2 separate regions of the Homo sapiens genome follow, and region 1 is linked to region 2. The links come from fine-mapping of genetic effects on gene expression. A gene starts in region 2. The other region holds a variant in brackets. All regions are shown on one strand. Distances are between the middles of the regions.

Region 1 (10,109 bases), 180 kb before region 2:
GTAATAGTTCCTAGCCTACGTTTTATAAAGGTCTTTTTTCAAATCACTAACCTTTTTAAAACTTGCGTTATATGGTTGATTTTGCTGGTGTTTTTATCCTAGCCCACCCCTAACTTCTAGGAATCTGTCCTCAGAGAGCATTCACCAGTATCTCAACATTGTTCCCTTTTCCCACACAGCCTGTGGGACTGTTCTCTTGTAGTCAAAATATTTATCTGGTTCTATGGCTACTTTTCAATAGTCTAATAACAAGTGAGTAAGTTGGGGGAAGCATGGGGAGGTCAGTTTTTCTTGACTGTTCAACCTGCTGAGCATAATGGTGAGTGAGTGGAAAGCTGGGAGACCTGTTCCAACAAGAGCTTTCTCATCCCCTGACCTTAGGCCAAATCACACCCTCCCTGGTGTATAGGCTTTCAAGGCTTAAAAGGGAAATTTTGATCTTCTCCCTACCTACTCTCTGCTCCTGGTTCTTATGAAGTTTGTAATACATCAGAAGCTTCTTGAGTCCAGAAAAGTCTAGAAACACCACTTGGTTAGGTACAACTGGTATCTTCTTATTTTGGAGGAAGAAACCACAGAAAGCAGCAGCTAAAGACCTACCACATGGGACCTCTGCCTTCTCCTGTGTTGCCCAGGACAAGTGGCCCAGTGTTCTTTTCCCAAGGTCTGGAGTCAGATGTTATTTCAACATATATATACCACTAGAGTTACACACACACACACACATGCACAGAGTCGCAGTGTCTTCTCAACTGTTGGAGACTGAATTCAAAGAAATAATAAAATGATAGGAAACTACTACCCTTCTGGATATGAGAAATGGGGTCTAGAGAGGGAGTACTTCAGAAGAGAGTGGAAATGTAGGAGGCCTGAGGAAGATTTTGGTGGTAAGGACAGTATGAGAAATGCACACATGTAGACCATCATAGTCACACTCACGTAGGCTCCTTTTCCTCACTTGTCTCAGTCACGGGGCATTAGTTTATGTTCATAATCCAATAAATGGTTTTGTGAAAATCCCACAGTCTCGGGCACATACCTATGATCTGTAACTAGATAAGTCCTGTGGCTGTCAGTCAGGGTCTTCACTATTCTTTCTCCTCTTGGTAGACAACCTCTTGTGCCCCTGGGAAGTAGAGGAGGAGGAGGAGACCTTTAAATTGGTAACCTGTGTGCATGCTGCGTGTTCCCTGCTTGATCTATGGGCAGCCTCTCCTGGGATGAAAACAGTAGCTCTGGGTCATGGCTCTGCAGGGAGAGAAGACCTGGTTAAGACTTGGGCTTTGGCAGGCTGTGGTGACTCATGCTTGTAATCCCAGAACTTTAGGTTCCAAGGTGGGAGGATTGCTTGAGCCCAGGAGTTCAAGACCAGCCTAGACAACATGGAGAGACCCCATCTCTGCAAAAAAATACAAAAATAGCCAGATATGGTGGCACATGCTTATAGTCCCAGCTACTAGGGAGGCTGAGGTGGGTGGATCACTTGAGCCTGGGAGGTTGAGGCTACGGTGAGCTGTGATTGCGCTGCTGCACTCCAGCCTGGGCGACTGAGATTCCATCAAAAAAAAAAAAAAAAAGACGGGCTATCTGATCCTGTTTGGCTTCTGCCTACCTAAAGCTTTTTGCTGGTCCAAAAAGGCGCTTCATTCCAGTCATGCAGCTGCCCCAGTCTTGGTCTTTATTTAGGAGTGCTCGGCTCTTTCATCTGGTCCTGCTTCTAAAACATTCCGGTACTGCTTTCTCCACTCCAGCTTTCCCAGATCTCCAGGAAGTCTTTTTTTTTTTTTTTTTTTTCCAATTGAGCTATCATTTACATACCTAAAATTCACCTTTTAAAAATGTATAATTCAGGGGTTTTAGAATATCCACAAGATTGTATAACCATTACTATCTAATTCCAGGACGTTTCATCATCCCCAGAAGAAAAACTTCATAATCCCCATTAGCAGTCACTACTGATTCTCCCCTCCCCTTGCCTCTGGCAACCACCAGTCTATTTTCTATCTCTGGGTTTGCCTGTGCTGGACATTTCGCAGAAGCTGACCCATAACATATGGCCTTTCGTGTCAGGCTTCTTTCGTCCCAGACAGCTGTTTGTGTATACACAGTTGCTCTGTGCTGTTCTGGGGCATGGGAGGAGGAAACATCATGAGATGGGCATGGTCTCAAGGAGTGGCCTTCCTGCTGCAGATACTGGGGCCATAAGCCTAGATACCATAAATGAATATGAGAGTCTTGGGGATGAAACCCAGCAGTTAGAACAGAAACTCGTGGATTGATTTGGTTCTTCTTTTCTAATCTGGTATGACAGCCGGAACTTGACCATCTCTTAGCCACCTGGGCTGAGATTTCTTGGTAGGGGTCCTCTCCTGTCCATCTTTATCCCAGTTCTGCTTCCCTGGCATAGTTTTTATTACTACCTCCCCCCCGCCATGCCACCCCCACATACTCTACACACCTTGTAGGGCCCTTGGCATTTGTATTACGGCTGCTACCTTTGAAGGGGTGGGAAAGAGCTAAGGCATGTGGGCATCTGTTGTTGGAGGAACACGTGGGAGTGCGGTGTCAGTGCGTGGCTGCTGTTCCTCTTTGCGGGAGTCTCTCCAGCCACTTACGGAAGGTTGCCTTCTGCTAGGGACAACCCTCCCAGGGCTGACTGAGAAGTGTTTTGGCCTAGGAGTTTCCTGGGACCTGTCAAGAAAACAAAAATAATACTATGTACTAAACTTTAGTCTATTTAATTCCAACATCCCTATTACGAGAAAATAGACTTTGAATACTTCATCTCTCCTTAAGTCACATAGCTAACACTTCAGCCCAGTTCTGTCTGTCTGTGTTCAAACTTTTGTGCTGTTTTCACACAGGGAAGCAAGGGGGCAAGGCTTGCTTTCCTGTTGCACCACACTCTCTTACATTCTTTGCCACCCAACAATATATTCCACATGCTGGATCTCTGCCCCTTTCTTCAAAGTAAGGGCCTCTGTGAAGTGGCCAAGGTAGTCATGTCTGCATGGCTTACGCTGATTATCTGCTGTAGAGTTTGAAAGAAATTAGAAATGAGGCCTTCCATAGACAGAATCTCTCGTCTTCTCTTGCAGCCAACAGGAAGGCCGGGTGTGCAGTCACATCTCTGCTAGCTTCGGAGCTGACCAAGGATGATGCCATGGCTGCTGTTCCTGCCAAGGTGTCCAAGAACAGTGAGACATTCCCCACAATCCTTGAGGAAGCCAAGGAGTTGGTTGGCCGTGCAAGCTAATGTGGGTCCTGTGACCGCGGCAGCTCCTCAGCGGAGCCGCAGACTGTCCTGCCCTGCAGCATGTGCCTAAAGGCTCAAGGGGATATTCCTCTGGGGTGGCCACTCCCACCACCCTGACCCTGTCTTTCTCTCTGGCCTGCTGCTCTCTCAACATCACATACAGCTTCAGCTGCCTGGAGGCCAGAAGGAAAGGGCAGTGCAGGGGAGGCCTGAGCCCGACTTAGCCAGCCCTGGCTGTTGTATTACCAAAGCAGGGTCCATGTTTGCTGCCTTAACCCTGTCTCCTCTCTGTTACTCAGAGGGCCTCATCTCAGACAAGGCCCAGCCTGCTTTTTCTCAGCCCTGACTTTCTAATGGGCTTTCCCCCCTAGGTCAGTCTTGCTGGATTTGTGCTTTTCTTTTGTGGTTTCTCTGGCCCTGAGAATAGCATGGGGCTTGTAAACCTTTGGGCTAGATCCCTCCTTTCATTGCTGTTGTCTCTGCTCTTCCCTCTCCTGGCTGTGGTTATTTATTATTAGTGGTGTGGCACTGGGAGCTGCTCCTAAGGAAGCAGGGAGCAAATCCCACCTTTACCCCACCTTCCTGGGAAAGGCCTCCAAAGCAAAGGATCTGGACCAGTTTCCCTGCTGTGCTGTGGCCCAGGCCAGAGCCTGTGGGCAGGCAGGCAGGGCATAGCGACAGTGTGGGACCTGCCCCCAGCTTCTGCCACGCTTTATGCCCTTGCCTCTCTGGACGCTCTGCACCAACCCCAGGCTACTGAGCCACCTTCCCTCCTCATGCCTTCCCTGAGCTTTGGTGCATCTCATCTGGACTATGGGTTGTACTGTGACCATCCCAACACCTCACCCTCTGTCTACAAGGAAATGGGAGGTGGAGCCTCCTGGCTGAGAAATTGTTTTGCAAATGGATCTATTTTTGTATGAAAAAAAAAATTTTTTTAAAGAAAACTGTTCCTTCCCCCTTTCCCCTCCATAATGTAAGAAGCTTTGGTGGCAGGTTACAGAGTTCTGGGATTTCTTCTCACAGGCCCAATCCTGAATGTGCCCCTGGACCTTCTGGACCCTTGAGTCCAAGGCAGATCCTCTCTCCCAGGGAATCCGACACAGGAGGAACCCCTTCTCTGGTTGAGCTGGGCCAGGCCTAAGAGTAGCAGGAACTCTAAGACCACAGAGTTTTTTATAAATGTATAAATGTATCAAGCCAAATGTGCAGATGCTAACTGGACATTCTGGGGAACTGGGCACCAGGAGTGCCTTCATACACTGTACCCCAGCTCTCTTCTAAAAGAGAAGTGGGTGGGCACACTGAACTGTTTGGTGGCCCCAACCACAGGAAGCTGCAATTCT[C/G]TGGCTTAGGGTGATACTTTTGCCCTCCTTGTGCCCCTCTCAGCTTTCCATCCCCAGCTAGGAAGAAAGAATGGCACTCTTGGGCTTGGCCCAGAATTAGAGTTATTAGAGCAAGAGAGAGCTTAGGAAGCATGAGGGCAACTATAGTGAGGCCTTATTGCCAGGAGGGAGGGTTTTGGTTGCTGGCGCTTGTGTATAAAGGGGCAAGAGCAGCTCCTTTGGACTATTCCTGGGAGGACTCTGATGCAGGGCGTCTGTTGCTCCCCTGGGTCACCTCCTCCCTGCTCGCTGACATCTGGGGCTTTGACCCTTTCTTTTTTAATCTACTTTTGCTAAGATGCATTTAATAAAAAAAAAGAGAGAGAGAGAGAGGTGTGAGGGACAAAATGCAAACCTATTTCCCTTGCCTCATAGGCTTCTGGGATGTCATCACCTCCAGTTTGTTGGTTTTGTTTCCAACTGTTAATAAAGCATTGAAACAGTACTGCCTTACAGCTTCCTGTGTGAATTTCTGAGCTGTTTTCTTTTCACTCTAGTCCAGGCTCCTCTAGTCTTTCCTGCCTCAAATCCCTGGTTGACCTGACAAATCACTGTGAAAAAGCTAAAGGTGCCAGACACTTTACTTGGGCACAGGGCTAGAGATGATTAATACATGGTGGCTGCTGCCCCACCAGAGCTCACCTCAGGGCCGTTTGGCCACAGTAAAGGAGTGGGCGCCTGGTTCAGCTCCCTGACTCTTCCACATTGCTGCTACTTGGTTTGGAGCCCTTTTTTGGAACTCACTTGGAACCTTTCATGTTCCCAGATGTCACGCAAGGTTTCCTGGCAGTACCTGTGTCTCTTGCTGAGGGAAGCATCTGGCTCCCATTTTCTCATCCCCTCTGCTCTGTTGGTGGCCACAGACCACATTCCAGAGTAGAGGGGTTTACCCTGGGGTGGAAACCTGAGCCTGCCCAGCAGAGGTTGGGAGCCTGAGGTCATGCTCCAGATGACTTGCCACTTGGAGCCATACTTGTCTGAGCACGTTATGACCTGCACAAAAAAGCCAGACCAGCAATGAGCAGGCCCAGGATAGACAGGGAGAGGCCTGGAGAGGACCACAAACCCATTCGGGCGGGCTCTGGAACTGGAAATAAAAGCCTTTTAAATAGCCCTGGAGCCTGGGCAGCTGCCTCCTCAGTATGGCCTGAGGTGTGGGGATGGGTTGCCTGCCGCCTCCCTCCCGTCCCCCCGGAGGCCACGCCTTTCTGGTTCAGAGCTTTATAGGCACACATACCAATTAGGGGACAAACCACAGCTGCTCACGCGCTCTGCCAGTCTGCTGCTGTGCCTGGAATAGAACCCAGGCGCCCGGCACCCCGCCCCTCCGCAGCCTGGCTCTGAGTAACAAAACCCTGCTTCCATCTCAGCAACCGTGCACACCACCCTTCCTCCCACGCTAGAAAGTCGCCCCCAGATTCTTAAGTTGGAAGGTTTGGTTCCCATGACAACAGACTTGAGCTGGCAGAATGGGTGACCTGGCTCTGGGAGCCTCCGCAGCGCGGAGGAAGCCGCATACCCTTGCTGACCAGCCAGATAACCGCAGTGGCTCTGTCTTTGTGTTCTTGGGTCCTTCCGGGTAGTTCCCCTTTTAAGTCCCCCTTCACCCCCAGCTCCGTGTTTTTCTGCAGCTTCTCTGGCTGCAGCAACCTCGGAATCCCACAGTGCTTCGAGGAGGCAGGCGGAGGGGGCGGGGAGATGGGAGAGCAGGCGAGTGAGTGGAAAAGCACCGACAGGAAGGAGGGAGGGGAGCTGAGTCTGCGATGGATCTCATTTCCTGCACGTCCTTTCAGTCCCCTTGACCCCCGCAAGAAGAGGATGAGCCCTCCAATTTCTTAGGCTTCGCTACGGAGATGTCAGCGGGAAGGCGAATTCCAGATGGGGAAACTGAGGCTCGAGCTGCAGACTTGGCTTTGGAAGAATCACCTCCCGCATTCCCTCCCACTCCCGCGGCTTTCCCAAAACCCCTAGGCAGCGGGGGTGGGGGTGCGGGGGCAAAGGAGAGTCTACCCTCCTCCCGTGAAGCCCTCCGGGGCGCTTCGGGTAGGCAATTTTAGTCAGGAAGGGGCGGGAACTAACGAAACGTCCTCTCCCCTCTACCCAAGGCGTTTGCCCGGCGCCAACCCGCCCCCGCCCGCGCCGGGGTCTCCTCTTCTGCCTGGAGACAGCCGCAAGCTTAGACTGCACACTCCACTGCACACTGACACGCCGCACTCAGATCCCCACCCCCACAGCGGACCGATCACACAATGGCACACGGTACACAGATCCATAGGCACACAATCGCACACTGTCTCATAGGCACAACGGCATTGCAAGCATACACAACCATATTGCACAGTCACACACACACACGCAATTCGGAAACATCTAGACGCGCAATGACACAAAGTGGCCTCCCGATTCCGCCCTTCTTCCAGCACCCACCTCAGCTCATCACTTCATGCACACATGCCAGGAGCTTCCATCGCTTATACAGAAACGTTCAGCTTTTCAGAAGAAACGTTTTATTATTTTTTTGTCGAAGAAAAAAAGCCATATAAATATTAGAGTATAAAACTTGCGTGAGACACAGGAAGAGGGTGGGGTGGGAGCTACGTGACTATGCGAAGAGAAGCGCTTATAGGAGAAGTCAGTACGGGGGAGGGGGTCGCCTTAGCGCGTGGACACAGCACAAAACACAACACGGGCCGCCGCGGGCAGATCAAGGACAGACGGCTGCGCGGAGCCCGCCGCCCGCTGCCCACCCGCCATCACGTAAAAGCACACCGCACTACACTACTGGCTATTCTACACCAGCCGAAAGAGGGAGGGGGCGCTACACTACTGTAAGGGCAGGTCTGGGGTTCTCTGGCAGCCCCGCTGGATGGCCGGGGACCCAGGGGCAGAAGGGGGTGGGAGAAGAAGGTCTATGCACAAGGAGGCACTGGGGAACTTTAACCAGGCTATGGCCACTAGGGGGCGCACTGGGGACCTGGGCAGTGGCCTTCACGGAAGAGAAACGGCACCTGGCAAGGTGAAGGACTGAGGCTTCAGGAGGGCAGGGGCCCTGTTGAAGAAGCCCCATCCTGGGCTGAGACTTTCTGTTCATTTGGTCCCTGCCCTAGCTCCCTGCCTCCCCAACCCAGGGACTAAGAATGGCCTGGCTGGCCCACCCTTCCTGCTGGGGCTCCGCTGACCCTTCCACCAGTGGCACCTCTGGAGTACCCAGCACCCACAGAGGCCCCTCTGACCTCTCAAGGGGACCTGGTCCTAAACCTGCTTCGAGCTTCCTTGGACTGAAATGCCAGTTTAATCCATTGGTCCTGTTAGCTCAGCCCAAAGCTGGCTGCCTGGGCTGAGCCCTATTATGTAGTGGGAAGGGTCCAGCCTAGTTATTGGTTTATGGCTGGAATCTGGAGGATGTTGTCAGTCCCCTGAGGACATACAGAGCCTCCTCCAAGGCCTTGATAACTTGATGTGTCAAGCTTTGTCCATGCCCCCACCATCCACATCCACACACTTCCCTTCCTTATCTTACCACCCCATACTGTCTTGGAACATGCAGTGGAGTCTCTTGTTTGAGGAGGAGGTGGGGGAAGTCAAGGCATGCAGTGGAAACGTCAAACAATGAAAAACAAAACAGAAGACTGGTCCCCAGGGCGTTGGGAAGAGGCTTGGTAGCAAAATGCCCTCCCTAAATCCAGCAAGCATCAGTACCATGGGGATGGTGATCATGTCCTCCAAAACTTGAGCATTGATCTTGGGCTCTGGAAGGAGGTGAAGGGGCTGGCACCAAACCATGCTTTGGGGGAAGATTGAGAATCAAAGGAGAGGCCAAGAGGTCATGATGCCCTTCCAACTTTTCAGAACTAGGAGGCTTGTAGGTTACTTGGTACTTCAACACCCCAACCACCTTACTCGGGAAAGAGGAACTGTTGGAGTGGGGTGGGGAGGAGGGAGGCATGGGATGGATGGGCCTGATTGATTTGGAAGATGGAGGAGTTCAGCTGTAACTAAACGGGGTGTGGCAAATGGTTCTTGGTGTCTACAGTAACCCCACTACCCCCATGGGTACAGCAGTTGATTGGATGGGGGTTCCCAGCGGAACTGCTTTTGCATATTCAACCCCCTGGGGGGGAAGGGGTAGGTGCTGACTGGGCACTTGTTTCTGTTTCCCAAGGGGAGCATGGCCTTGGCCCCTACCAGTATTCTGGGGGTTAGCCCTGAAACTCTGAGGCCTGGGTGCAGGTAAGGAGAAGCTGGGCTGGTTGGGGAGAGGCCGCCCTGTGGCTCTTGGCCTGGCCTCCATGTTACTTCTTCTCCTTCTTGCCCGACTTCTTCTTGTTGCCATTGCCACCTGCTGGGGCCTTGCCATCCCGCTTGCCAGCTGCGTTGGTCAGTGTGGCATTGCTGCCTGGGATGTAGACATTCTGGCGGTAGTCGGGCACGTGCTGCAGGGTGAACTGGGGTCCGTAGCGGGCGCTCAATCCCATGGTGCCGGCACCCCCTCCCAGGGTGGAGCTCCCATCAGCAGCTTCTGCAGAGACAGAGGAAGATCAGGTGGGAGCTAAACTTAGGGTCCTCAACAGTCACTGTCTTATATCCCCAGCAGTTAATGAATGCCTATACAGCACCCTGGGCCTTGACCACGCTGAGCACTGGGAATATAGGGGTCACCAAGGTAGTCTCTCTTCACAAGAGTTGAGGGTAGAGGTTAAGAGGCTCTGGAGTGAGAAAGTCTAGGTTTGATTCCTAGCTCCTTTCCTTACTCACTGTGATCCTGGGCAAGTCTACCTAACCTCCTTATGCCACTTCAGTTTTCTCATCTGCAAAATGGGGATGATAATGGTAACCACCTCTTCTGGTTTTAGTGAATGCTAAATAAGAAAATGTATGTCAGGTACGTAAAATAGTGCCTGGTAGATGTAAGTGCTCAAAACACATTCGCTGGTATTTCTCTCAGGGCTGTGACACGGGCTCTCAGTTCCTTGCCCTGGCTTTCTCAAGGGAGCCTCTGACTCCCACACTAGACCATGGGCTCCTGGAGGGCAGCAGCCATGAAACCATGGCTTTACATGCCCCTAGCCTTTGCCAAGCAAGGCCTGGCACGAGTAGAGATTCGGTAGTTCCGTTAGTAAGTGTGTGGGGTGGGGGTGAAGAGTGCTCTTCCAAGCCTCCATTTCAAAACAGCATTTTTTTTTTTTTTTTTTTAAGATGGAGTCCTGCTCTGTCGCCCAGCCTGGAGTGCAGTGGCGCGATCCCGGCTCACTGCAACCTCTGCCTCCTGGGCTCAAGTGATTCTCCTGCCTCAACCTCCTGAGTAGCTGAGATTACAGGTGCACACCACTAGCCCAGCTAATTTTTGTATTTCAAAACAGCATTTGAGCACCTACTGTGTGCCAGGCACTCTGCTGGATGCTTCACATGCACAATCACTTTTAACCTCTACATAACAGCCCAGCCAGCTATGTGGTATGACCCTCATT
Region 2 (12,464 bases):
TGCGTTCTCCTTCTTGAGTGGTCAACAGCGACACTAAGAGGCCTAACCGTTTACTGCATCCTCTCAGACACATTATTATTTTTGAATTATCCAAGATCTGAAATCCTTCTTGTCAGAGATAAGAGGACTAGTGTTGATTGAACATAATTGAATCGATATATGTTAAACAGTGTCACCTCAAGTTATCTTTCTTGGGAATCCATGCACTAACCTTAATGCCACCAATATTGCTTCAAACATAGTGGAGTTAACTTTTTTGAATTGTTCAGTTTAAGAAACACACAGTAACAAAGAACTGGCCGTAAGGACCAACACAACTATTAAAAGACATGACCACCACTTGTTCTTCCACCACTGAACCTTGATAATGTGTTTATTCTTATACTTACTACATTTATCAGGGTTATTTGATAAGATATCCACCTCCTCTTTGACCTTTCCCTCTCTATACTCTTAACTCTCTAAGAGCTGAGACAAGGAAAAAAAGAAAAGAAACACACAGAAATCAGCCATATTTATACATTATATTTCTTTAAGTTTGTTCTTGGTGACCTGATAACTTAGTTTCGATATTTGTTGTTATTTAATATTCATTAAACAAACACATAATTAGGCATCAGACAATATGTTTGGGGATTTAAGGTGAACAATATAGACACAGTAGCTTCCTTCACAGAGATTATAAGGATATAAAAGCAAACAGGGAATTGCAGTGTACTGAGATAATTACCATAATGGGAGAAGCCAAGGGGGTTAGGGGGGCCTTCAATTGGGCCTTTAATGTTAGCAAACGCTTTCCCAGGAAACATGAGAGGAGTGGATCAGTGAAAAGGCCTGGATGTGGGAGAGAACAGCATGACAATGCCTAGGTGTGAGAGAGAAATCACAGACCTTCAGGGTACTGAAAGAAGTTTCCTTTGTTTAAATCTAGACTGTAAGGATGTTTTTTCAAAACCAACTGAAACTAGTAGAAATAAGCTTTTATGTTCCAGAATCTCTTTCCCCATAAGTTTCCAAGCACAGAAATATAAATACAATATATTTGTCGTTTCAATCATGATGCATTACATATCTATGCATAAGACATTTATTCTTGTGGAGTTACTACACACACTAAAAATAACTTTGCTTTAATTTTCCTGTTTATACTTTATTATTCACTTACAAGTAAAGCTATTATGACATATTATTCCACAGTGAGTTCCAATTTTACTCATAGACAATTATGTAATAGTAACCAAAACAACACCTTGTCTCAGAAAATTTTTTCTTGATCAAATGCAACGGAAAGAATCACAGCACTTTGAGAAATATGGTATCATTCAATAAAAGGCTCAATTGGTACATGATAATTTTCAAATAAAAATAAAAAATGATGCCAGTTACATAGAACATTAGTGTGCTTATTATTCTCTGTTATTAAATACATAACCAACATACTAAAAGCCAATATAGGAAGAGGAATGGGAAAAGAAAATTGATCAGAGGGGCACTGGGATTGGGTGAGGGATTGGGAACATTTCTAGCAGCTATTGTGAGTAGAAACCTTGAGAAGAGAGATGTATAAAGAAGTTGGTTCTGGGCAATTGTATGATATGAATCTTTTGTATCTTTTCTTTAAGCAAAACTATATTGAGGATATATATTATTTTAAAGATTAAAATACAGTATGGTTCCCACGTATGAGAAAGATAAAAAAAAAGGAGAAACCTGTTTATTACCACTCTACAGCTTTATTATAGAGCAGATGATAAGTCAGTCACTTCTTCAAGAAGCATATAGCTTAGAGGTTAATGTGATTTTTAAAACTAAGCCAAAATAATATGACATACCTTCCTGAAACACTGTAAGGAATGTATATTTCTAAATTTCCATATTTTTAACAGGGAAGGGCATGCAAGTTAAGGAAAACAATTTTGCTGCCAAACTGAAAGAAATGTATTAAGACTGAATGAGAAAGAACTAGCCAACTAACATGTTTCACTGTTCATATACAGATTCAAATATAGAGTAAGAGTCATAACTTAAAAGAAGAAAGGACTTGAGTAAACATAAACTCCAATCTTTATATTTTTAACAAAGAAAAAATTGTTGATCTGGGTGGATGAGATGATTTGCCCAGGGATGGAGAAGAAAGTATAAGAAACCAGACACCCTAGTTCCTAATGCAGTGCTCTTTGGATAATCTTATCTATTAACTCCTGGTTTACATTCATTGCACAAAGATTCTCACGTCTCTTCTTCCTCTTACAGCCTGTGAACACTAAGACCTACCAAGAAATAATTCACCAAGACTCACTTCCTAAAACTTGACTCTACCCTCAAGGAAATATGGGGAACAAAATAGATATAGTAAACAAGTAAGTGAATTACTTCAGCAAACTAGCTAGTACGTATGTTGTGAAAAGATAGATTACCTGAGAAAACGTTTCTTCTCTTTCTTCTTCGAGTAGAGATTGAGGCGCTGATAAAAAATCCTTTTTCTCACAGCTCTCCTGGCTGATGAGCGTGTCCGCATAGTTGGGCTGGGGGAAAATCAGGTGGCTCTTCCGCGAGTCCGCAGTGAGGGAGACCTCGTGGGAATAGGTCTGCAGGAAAGCCCGAACCCCGTCCACGCCCACAAAGTGCGAGCTCTGCATGCCTGTCAAGCTGCCTCCTGAAGCCTGCAGCAGGCGTGACTTGTGCCAGCGCCGCAGCCTGTGCGCCAGCAACACGATGACGAAGGCCAGGAAGACGCAGGAGACCGCGGCCACCGCCACCACCAGGTACAGAGTGAGGTCCGAATCGTTGGGTATGGCGGAGGGCTCGAGGCTGCCCAGGTCGGCCAGGATGTCGGGGATCCTGTCGGCCACGGCCACGGTGAGCGTGACAGTGGCGGAGAGAGGGGGCTGGCCGTGGTCCTGGATGGCCACCACGAGGCTCTGCTTGAGCGCGTCTCTGTCCAGCAGGGCTCGCGCCGTGCGCACCTCGCCCGTGTGCAGACCCACCGAGAAGAGTCCCGGCTCGCTGGCCTTGAGCAGGTGGTAAGACAGCCAGGCGTTCTGGCCCGAGTCTCTGTCCACCGCCACCACCTTGGTCACCAGGTAGCCGGGCTCTGCGGAGCGGGGCGCCAGCTCCACGCCAGTGGAACCGTCTGTGGGGAAGGCAGGGTACAGGATCTCGGGCGCGTTGTCGTTCTGGTCCAGCACGAACAGGCTTAATGATACATTGCTACTGAGTGGAGGGTTCCCGCTGTCCCGCGCTATCACCCACACTTGCAAGTCTCGCAACTGCTCATAATCAAAGGAGCGCAGTGCATAGAGTACTCCAGTGTCGGAGTTGATAGAGATGTAAGAGGATAAGGGTGCCCCCTGAACAGTGTCCTCCGCGAAAGAGTAAGTTACATGAGCATTGTCGTTGCTGTCGGGGTCATGGGCCGTCACTGAGAAGACAGAGGCTCCTCTGGGGTTGTTTTCGGGAATGTAGGTGGAGTAGGATGTGCGGGAGAAGGCGGGTGCGTTGTCGTTGATGTCTGCCACCTGGAGCAAAATGTGAGCATCCGTGGACAGGGAGGGGTTCCCTCCATCTTTAGCGGTTAGAGTGATGTTGTAAAAGGAAAACTGTTCCCTGTCAAGGGCTCTGGTTGTAACCAGTCGGTAGTAATTGTCTACTGACTTTTCTAACTTAAAAGGAAGATCCTCGGGGAGTGAACAGGTGGTGAATGCGTTCTGCCCAGAGTCTCTATCATGTACATTAAAAAGCCCAATTATGGTTCCTGGAAGAGAGTCTTCAGAAACTGAGCTAGTAGCAGATGTCATGTAAAATTCTGGGGCATTGTCATTCACATCCAGAACCGTGACGATAACCTTCGCTCTGGTTAGAAGGCCCGGACCATCCTGAGCTTCAATATCAATTTCATGGAATGTAGCATCCTCATAATCTAGATCTTTTATGATTGTCAGTTCTCCAGATGTTGACTTAAGCTCAAATACCTCTGAGGTTTCTCCAGGGCTTTTCTCTAGAAAATATACCACTTGAGCGTAGTAGCCCTCATCTGCGTCAGTGGCGGTCACCGTGAGTATCCGGGTGCCCACGAGCGTATTCTCCGGAATGCTTATGCGGTACTCGGGCTGTGTAAAAACAGGCGCATTGTCGTTCGCATCCAGGACCTTCACGCAGATGCGGGAGGTGCCAGATAGCACTGGGTCACCCCCATCAGAAGCCACGAGAACGAGGTGGTGAACAGCCTCTTCCTCGCGGTCCAGAGAGCGCTCCAGCACCAGTTCTGGGTACTTGTTCCCATCAGCTCCCCTTCGCACGTCCAGGGAGAAGTGGTCATTTGGGTTGAGTGCGTACTTCTGAAGGGCGTTCTCACCTACGTCTGCATCATGCGCATTCTTAAGAGGAATCCGGAATCCTGGCGTAGTGGTTTCACTGATTTTTAGCTCCAGTTCCTCTACTCCAAAGCGAGGGGCATTATCGTTAATATCTGTTATTTCCACCTCTACTGAATAAATAGTCAATTTATCCTCCAGCAGAATGTTAAAATTCAACAGACAGGGTGCGCTCTGAGCGCAGAGCTCCTCCCGGTCTATCCTGTTCGCAGTGACCAAGCTGCCGCTTCGCGGGTTCAGAGCAAAGAGCTGGGACCTACCTCTGGAGACGATGCGGACTCCCTGCTCTGCCAGTGCCAGGGGCTCCAAACCCAAGTCCTTGGCGATGTTGCCTACGAAGGAGCCTCTGTCGATCTCTTCCCGCACAGAATAGCGAATCTGCCCGGCCCTGGCCTCCCACAGGGTCGCCAAAAGGAAGCACAGCAGGACCAGCTTTCTGCAGTGTGGCAACTTTTGCAGAGCCGCCATTTCCCTCCTGTCGCAATTTTCTCCGAGTCAACTTCCAGCATCCAGTGCGGATTCCAATCTTTATTCCTCAGGGTGTGAGATAACCAGCATTCACGGGACCCAGGTCCCTATGGAGAGAACTGGTGGGCTGTTCGACTGAATTTCTTTGGTGTCCTGAAGCTTTAGGGCCAAACCTCCACCCCCTTGTGCTGTGGGAGCCGTATTGCTGGATTGGATGTCTCGCTGCCTTTTACTCCTTAGGTGGTCAACAGCGACGCTCAGAGGCCTAAATAATTTCTGCACCTGCTCAGGAAAACCTAAGTTACTTCTTGTTTGTTTGCCTTTGTTGACTTTCAAGGCGCTTTAAAGAATCTTACAGCTCTAAGATACCCTAGAATTAGATCTTTCAAAACAGGAATCTTTTTATCAGGATTAATAAGAATGGTATAAATGAACATGATCTTGATAATAGTTGCTAGGAAAGTATTATTGACTGCTCAAGGCATTAATCAATGCCACCACTGCCCTTGCTCCAAACATCTTCCATCTCTTATTGTATAATCAGAAGCAGTAAGATCAATTAAGAAACGTTAGCTACGTTTTCTTCTAAGGTTATATATTTTGAACGTTTATGGTTGATGGCTTTGCATTTACCTTCAAAATCTGCCTTTAAATTATTGAATCATCAGACACTTAATTGGGTACATGTGCCTCCCACTTTGCATGATTGCAGCTGGAGCTAGAAATGGTGAACATGATAAACACAGGCCCTGGTCTCAAGCGTGAAGGTTGGAGGAGGACATAAGAAAGTAAAGAGAGTATAATAGAGTATGGTAACTGCTGTGATATGAGGTAGGAAACACTGGGTGATGGAGGAATACCTAGGAGGGGTATCCAGTCTAGATTTGGGGTCAGAAAAGTCTTTTTGAGGGCATGATTGAAGCTGAATCATAAAAAGTAGGATTGAATCAAGAAAAAGGCTGAAGAAGTGTTCTAGAACCTCTGAACAAATGCTTGAAGGTAAGAGACAGCATGGAACATTACAGAAACAGAAAGCAGGTCTATTTGATAAAGCTAGAGCCGGAAGGGGTTTTTCACCACACTAGGAATCAGTCACTCAAAATTGTTTGAGGTTGTCAAGTTCTTTTTCTGATATTCATTTTCCAAGGGTGTAAAATACAATGCAGTGGATGTCTTCTTACTCTTGTTTCATCTTTACCATTTTGACCATAGTCAAGCATACAATTCTGTGACATTAAGTACATTCAAATTACATTCTGGTGTGACCATTACCACCATCCACTTCCAGAACTTTTTCATCCTCCCCAACTGAAACTCTGTACTTATTAAATAGCAACTCCCCATTGCCTTTCACCCAGTCCCTGGCAACTACCATTCTACCTTTTTTCTCTATGAATTTGACTAATCTAGGAACTTCATATATGAGGAATCATACAGTATTTGTCATTTTATAACAGGTTTATTTCACTTGATATCATGTCTTTGAAGTTCGTCCATATTGTAGCATGTAACAGAATTCCCTTCCTTTTTAAGGCTAAATAACAGCCCATTGTATGTGTGAACCACTTTTTATTTACCCATTCATCTGTCAATGGACACTTGGGTTACTTCCACTTTTCAACTATTGTGACTAATGATGCCATAAACATAGGTGTACAAATATCTGTTGAAGTCCCTATTTTCACTTCTTTTGGGTAATAACCAGAGTGGAATTGCTGGATTATATGGTAATTCTATGTTTAAATTTTTGAGGAGTCACCATACCATTTTCCACAGCAGTTGTGTCATTTTATATTCACCAGCAATGCACAAGAATTCCAATTTCTCCATATTCTTGTTAACATTTCTTTTCTTTTCTTTTATGACAGCAATTCTAATGAATGTGGAGTAGTATCTCATTATGGTTTTGATTTGCATTTCCCTAATGACTAGTGATGTTGAACATTGTTTCATATGGTTTTGGCCATTTGTATATCATCTTTGGAGAAATGTCTATTCAAGTCCTTTGCTCATTTTAACATCCAATTGTTTGGGATTCTTTGTTGTTGAGTTCGAGTTCTTTATTCTGGATATCCATTCTCAGATACATGATTTGGAAACATTTTCTCTCTTTCTGTGGGCTGCCTTTTCACTCTATTGATATTGTTCTTTGCTGCATATAGTTTTTAACTGTGATAAAGTCCAGTATACAATTTTTTTCTTTTGTTGCTTGTGCTTTTGGTGTCATATCCAAGAAATCATTGCCAAAAATCAATGTTATGAAGGTTTCCTCCTGTTTTCTTCTAAGAGTTGTATAGTTTTAGTTCTTAAACATAATAACTAAAAGGGTTTTATTGCTTCTGAATATTGCTTCTTTGATCCATTTTGAATTAATTTTTGTATGTGGCATAAGTGGAATTGCCCATTTCTGGTGACACTTTAATCTGTTTGCCTTTTGGCTCCTTCCTTATTGAAATTTTCTCATTTTTACTTTCATCCATTCCTCTTACAAGACTGAAGAAAAATATATTGGAAATAATTGATACCAACTCACCATGTTTTCTTGTAGAGCTACTATGGTATATTTTGCTTTTGTTTTTTATTTTTATTTTTGTGTTTGTGTTTGTGTTTTTTTGTTTTATAGAGATTGGGTCTTGTTATACTGCCCCGGCTGGATTCAAACTCCTGGGCTCAAGCAATCCTACTGCCTCAGCCTACTCAGTACCTGGGATTATAGGTGTGCCATTGTGCCTGGCTCTCTTACATGAGTCCTAACGTTAGACTTGACAGAATTTTCATTTTCTCCCCACTGGTTTTATTACATTTATTGTCTGCTTCCATTATTTCATCCTCAGAACTCTTCCATGGTTGCATTTCAAAAATGTAACTCTTTGTTATTTTTTCCATCATTTTATTTTAGTATATACTCATTGTATGTTTTTTATCTTACTTCTTGAATGGCAAGCTAAATTCATGTATTTTAAATAATTTTGTTTGCTTTTAAAAAAATTATTGCATTTGTCTATAAACTTACTCCTAATTAGTTTTAGTTGCATCTCACAATTTTTAATAAAGAATATTTAAGTCCTTTTTTTCTGAGTAGTTTTCATTGTCATTGTGATTTTTGAAATCCAAGAGTTATTTAAGGGTGTAGATGTAAATATCCAAACTTTTTCCCTTTTCTATTTTTAAATGTTTGCTTTGTGATTAAGTATGTGTTGTAAGGCAAGTATATTATTGGTACTTTGCAATTTGCTGAACCCTTTTTTGTAATGACTAGGTAATAAACTTGTAGATTGTCTGCTTGTTCAAGGATGACTATTCCATATTTGTTGTGTGCAGAACGGATCTATTAGAATCCTAATAGATCAAGCTTCTAAATTATGTTGTTCAAATCTTCTTTATGTTAACTAACTTTCTTCCTGTGGGGTCTATTATTTCTTATGGAATTATGTTTAAATATTCCGGTATTTTCTAAGCTATATTTTTCAGTAATAGAAGCTTATATTTTTATATCCTTTTGATCATCTGCTCTTTTTACAACTATAATCAGTTCATTTTTTAAAATCACAATTTGTGTTTGTTACCTTAAATATGACTTTGTTGTTACATTAACATGACTTTCTTTTTTGTGTGTGTACATATATATTTAGTTTCACTGTTTCAGTGTATTTTTATTTTAAGCACGTGTATTATTAGAATATGGATTTTAAAAATCAACCAGTTTTGTAATATTTGTCCTTTAATAGGTAAATGTAGCTCACTTGTATATACACAGAAAAAAAATTATGATTATAAGAGCTGAGAAAGTCCAGAAGTGAGATAACTTAGTTATCAATTGAGAGTATACTCTTGGTACCAAGCAAAAAATAAAAATAAAAATGCAACAGACACACAGCAAGAATGAGAGAAAGTCTTCAATAGTTACCAGAGAGAAAACAGAGATTACCTTAAAAAATAACAGTGTGTTGACAGAAAGTTTCTCACTAGTAACAATAAATTCTACGAGACAAGTGTGTTTTGAAATTTTGGTTTGTATATTTATTTTTAGTGGAAGAGCTCTGTTTGTTTTTAGTTTTAGTTTGTTTTTTTCTCTTCTACACTATATCCCTCTCTCCTTCCCTCCTGGGTTCAGTGCTCATTTGTAATGGTTTTGAAATAGTTTCTATCTGACCTCAGGTCCCAGGCCATAACTAGGTCTCTTAATGACGCTTTAATGATGCACAGCAGTGATATTCTGGATACCACAGCTCACATATGAGATACTTGGTGTTCGCTGTCTCTATCCAGCATCCGTGTCTGTCTCTCTCTCTTGGTCTACACAGCTTACGAAGAAAGTTATAACCACCGGAATTGGGAAACAGCTTTTATTATTATATTTATTTATTTAACAGGGTGTGGCTCTGTCGCCCAGGCTGGAGGGCAGTGGCGCGATCACGGTTCGCTGAAGCCTTGACTTCCTGGGCTCAAGGGATCCTCCCACGTCAGCTCCTGCCCCGCCCCGCCCCGCCCCTCCCCGCCCCGCGTAGCTGGGACTACAGTCGCAGGCCGCCCTGTCCGGCTGGTCTTGAACTCCAGGGCTCCAAGGATCTTTCCGCCTCAGCCTCTCAAATTGTTGGAAATACAGACGTGAGCCACTGCGCCCAGCTAGGCAGCATGTTAATGCATCTTTCTTTTCCTTTTTAACCAGCTGAAGGGCCTCATTGCTTATTTTGGATTCAGGCAGTAAGCCTGGTCCAGATATTTATCTAGTCTGAAGCACTTCTGTCCCTATTACATTGCTGGAGGCAGTTTCCTAACCTTCAATTTCTGCTTTTAAGTCCAAGACTATAACTCACATGGCTTTAGACTAGCTCACCACTTTGCTTTTGCTTTCCTCTTATATTTTATGTATCTCTGTATTTTATTGGAGCAGAGTAAATACATCAAAGCATGGACTTACTCCCCGACCATACTTTTTTTTTCTTCTGAAAAGTTAACACACATTAAAATAGGATATATACTTGATTTTTGTTAGCTGATTTCATTACAGGTATAATGTATAAGTCAGGAGGCTTCAAAGATATTTCTCAAGTTGCATGATAAATTTTGTGTTGTTCATTTTGTTACTTCATACATTACTTAAATAGACGTATTCTTCAGTACAGGCACCACAGCTCACACCTGTAATATCAGCACTTTGAGAGGCTGAGGTGGGAGGATCGCTTGAGCCCAGGAGGTAGTGGCTGCAGTGAGCCATGATCATGCCACTGCACTCTAGCATGACCCCATCTCAAAACCAAAAAAATCTGATAATAAAGATAGAATAAAAGGCTAAAATATTCAACAATAATTTAAAATTGCAGTTTATATAGATCTCTATAATCTTATATGAACACAACTAAAAATACTACTTTAGACAATCTTCACCTCTTCAAATGTCCCCAAATAAACTATCACAGTGTCCTGACAGATGACATCTACATTAAATTCAGGGGTAGATTAGCAGGTACTTATAAAAAGAAAATTTGAAAATAGTGTTAGTCATTTAAATATTGGTGAGCCTTTTCTAATCAAACCTTTTAGCCCAGAGGCAAGTAAGAAAATGTTAGAAGCTAGATCGCCGTTTCTAATGCAGTGCTCTTTCCAAACAGAGATGGCATCTCACACATACCTTCAACCCAACCACCTACATTATGATCACAGTCTCCTTTTCAGTGCAAGAACAATTATAAATATACCTGCATATGAACGTGTAGACTCAATCGTGATTTTGCAGGACTTGTAATAAAAAGCTACAAAGATACATGGGTTAGAAGAACTATCTGTAGCAAAGAGCGAACGCTAGTAAGTTAAATCAAGAATTATTTTTCTCTAGATAGCTGATACATTCATCACAAAAGTTTACCTGAGAAAATGGTTCCTTTTTGTCTTCAAGTAAAGACTGGGGTGCTGATAGAAAACCCTTTTTCTCACAGCTCTCCTGGCTGATGAGTGTGTCCGCATAGTTGGGCTGGGGGAAAATCAGGTGGCTCTTCCGCGAGTCCGCAGTGAGGGAGACCTCGTGGGAATAGGTCTGCAGGAAAGCCCGAACCCCGTCCACGCCCACAAAGTGCGAACCGGGCATGCTCGCTAAGCCGCCTCCCGAAGCCTGTAGCAGACGTGACTTGTGCCAGCGCCGCAGCCTGTGCGCCAGCAGCACGATGACGAAGGCCAGGAAGACGCAGGAGACCGCGGCCGCCGCCACCACCAGGTACAGAGTGAGGTCCGAATCGTTGGGTTTGGCGGAGGGCTCGAGGCTGCCCAGGTCGGCCAGGATGTCGGAGATCCTGTCGGCCACGGCCACGGTGAGCGTGACAGTGGCGGAGAGCGGGGGCTGGCCGTGGTCCTGGACGGCCACCACGAGACTCTGCTTGAGCGCGTCTCTGTCCAGCAGGGCTCGCGCCGTGCGCACCTCGCCCGTGTGCAGACCCACCGAGAAGAGTCCCGGCTCGCTGGCCTTGAGCAGGCGGTAGGACAGCCAGGCGTTCTGGCCCGAGTCTCTGTCCACCGCCACCACCTTGGTCACCAGGTAGCCGGGCTCTGCGGAGAGGGGCGCCAGCTCCACGCCGGTAGAACCATCTGTGGGGAGGGCGGGGTACAGGATCTCGGGCGCGTTGTCGTTCTGGTCCAGCAGGAATAGGCTGAGAGACACGTTGCTGCTGAGGGGCGGATCCCCACTGTCCCGCGCCATCACTTTCAGTTGCATGTCCCGGAACTGCTCATAGTCGAAGGATCGCAGCGCATACAGGACCCCAGTGTCGGAGTTGATGGAGAGGTAGGCAGATAGGGGTGCCCCCTGGATAGTGTCCTCTATTAGGGAGTAAGTGATTTGTGCATTCTCATTGCTGTCCAAGTCGTGGGCCCTCACAGAGAAGATGGAGGCTCCTCTGGGGTTGTTTTCGGGAATGTAGGCAGAGTAGGAGTCCTGATGGAAGACTGGGGAGTTGTCATTGATATCTGTCACTAGTAGTGAAATGTGAGTTTCAGTAGATAGAGCTGGAGTTCCTTGGTCTATTGCTGTTATTGTGATGTTGTACCCAGAGATAAGTTCTCTGTCCAGTGTTCTTTCAGTCACTAAACGGTAATAATTATCAACTAACTTTTCCAATTTAAAGGGTAAATTTCCAGGAATGAAACATGTGGTGTAGCCATTGTCTCCTGAGTCCTGGTCATGCACACTGATAAGAGCAATTATGGTCCCAGGAGGAAAGTTTTCTGGAACTGCAGTGGTGACAGAGGTGATGGTCACTTCTGGGGCATTATCATTTACATCCAAAACTTTGATCAGTACCTTAACTTTAGCCATGAGCCCCGCACCATCCTGGGCTTGAACTTCCATTGAATACATTTTGTATTCTTCGAAATCTAGTGGTTCTTTATTTGATATTTCTCCTGTGTAAGAATCTAAACGAAATATTTGGGCCACTCTGTGGTCTACATTGTGAAAGGAGTACGTTACTTCCCCATTGGCTCCCTCATCAGGGTCAGTGGCATTTACCATGAGCAGCTGAGTACCCAGCGGCACGTTTTCGGGGACATTTATATGGTATTGTGCCTGAGTAAATGCTGGAGGATTGTCATTTGCATCCACCACCTGAATGTAAATTCTGAGGGTCCCTGAAC

The links.
Region 1: its variant is fine-mapped to the expression of PCDHGA2 in blood mononuclear cells (TOPMed, PIP 0.92).

The regions. Positions count from the first base shown.
Region 1 is chr5:141,509,998-141,520,106 of GRCh38, reverse strand. PCDHGA1 (protocadherin gamma subfamily A, 1) reads right to left here. Exons shown (of 4, transcript NM_018912.3): 4 at 7,132-9,160. The coding sequence ends at 8,934. PCDHGA2 (protocadherin gamma subfamily A, 2) reads right to left here. Exons shown (of 4, transcript NM_018915.4): 4 at 7,132-9,160. The coding sequence ends at 8,934. It overlaps PCDHGA3 (protocadherin gamma subfamily A, 3), which reads right to left. Exons shown (of 4, transcript NM_018916.4): 4 at 7,132-9,160. The coding sequence ends at 8,934. It overlaps PCDHGB1 (protocadherin gamma subfamily B, 1), which reads right to left. Exons shown (of 4, transcript NM_018922.3): 4 at 7,132-9,160. The coding sequence ends at 8,934. It also overlaps PCDHGA4, PCDHGB2, PCDHGA5, PCDHGB3, PCDHGA6 and PCDHGA7, and 15 more genes. RefSeq lists enhancers at 2,818-3,443, 3,444-4,069, 4,696-5,321, 5,293-5,542, 5,322-5,947 and 4 more. The variant C/G (reference allele first, on the strand shown) is at 4,603.
Region 2 is chr5:141,331,349-141,343,812 of GRCh38, reverse strand. It overlaps PCDHGA2 (protocadherin gamma subfamily A, 2), which reads right to left and starts at 5,053. Exons shown (of 4, transcript NM_018915.4): 1 at 2,418-5,053. The coding sequence starts at 4,841. It overlaps PCDHGA1 (protocadherin gamma subfamily A, 1), which reads right to left. Exons shown (of 4, transcript NM_018912.3): 1 at 10,708-12,464. It also overlaps PCDHG@. RefSeq lists a silencer at 9,914-10,143.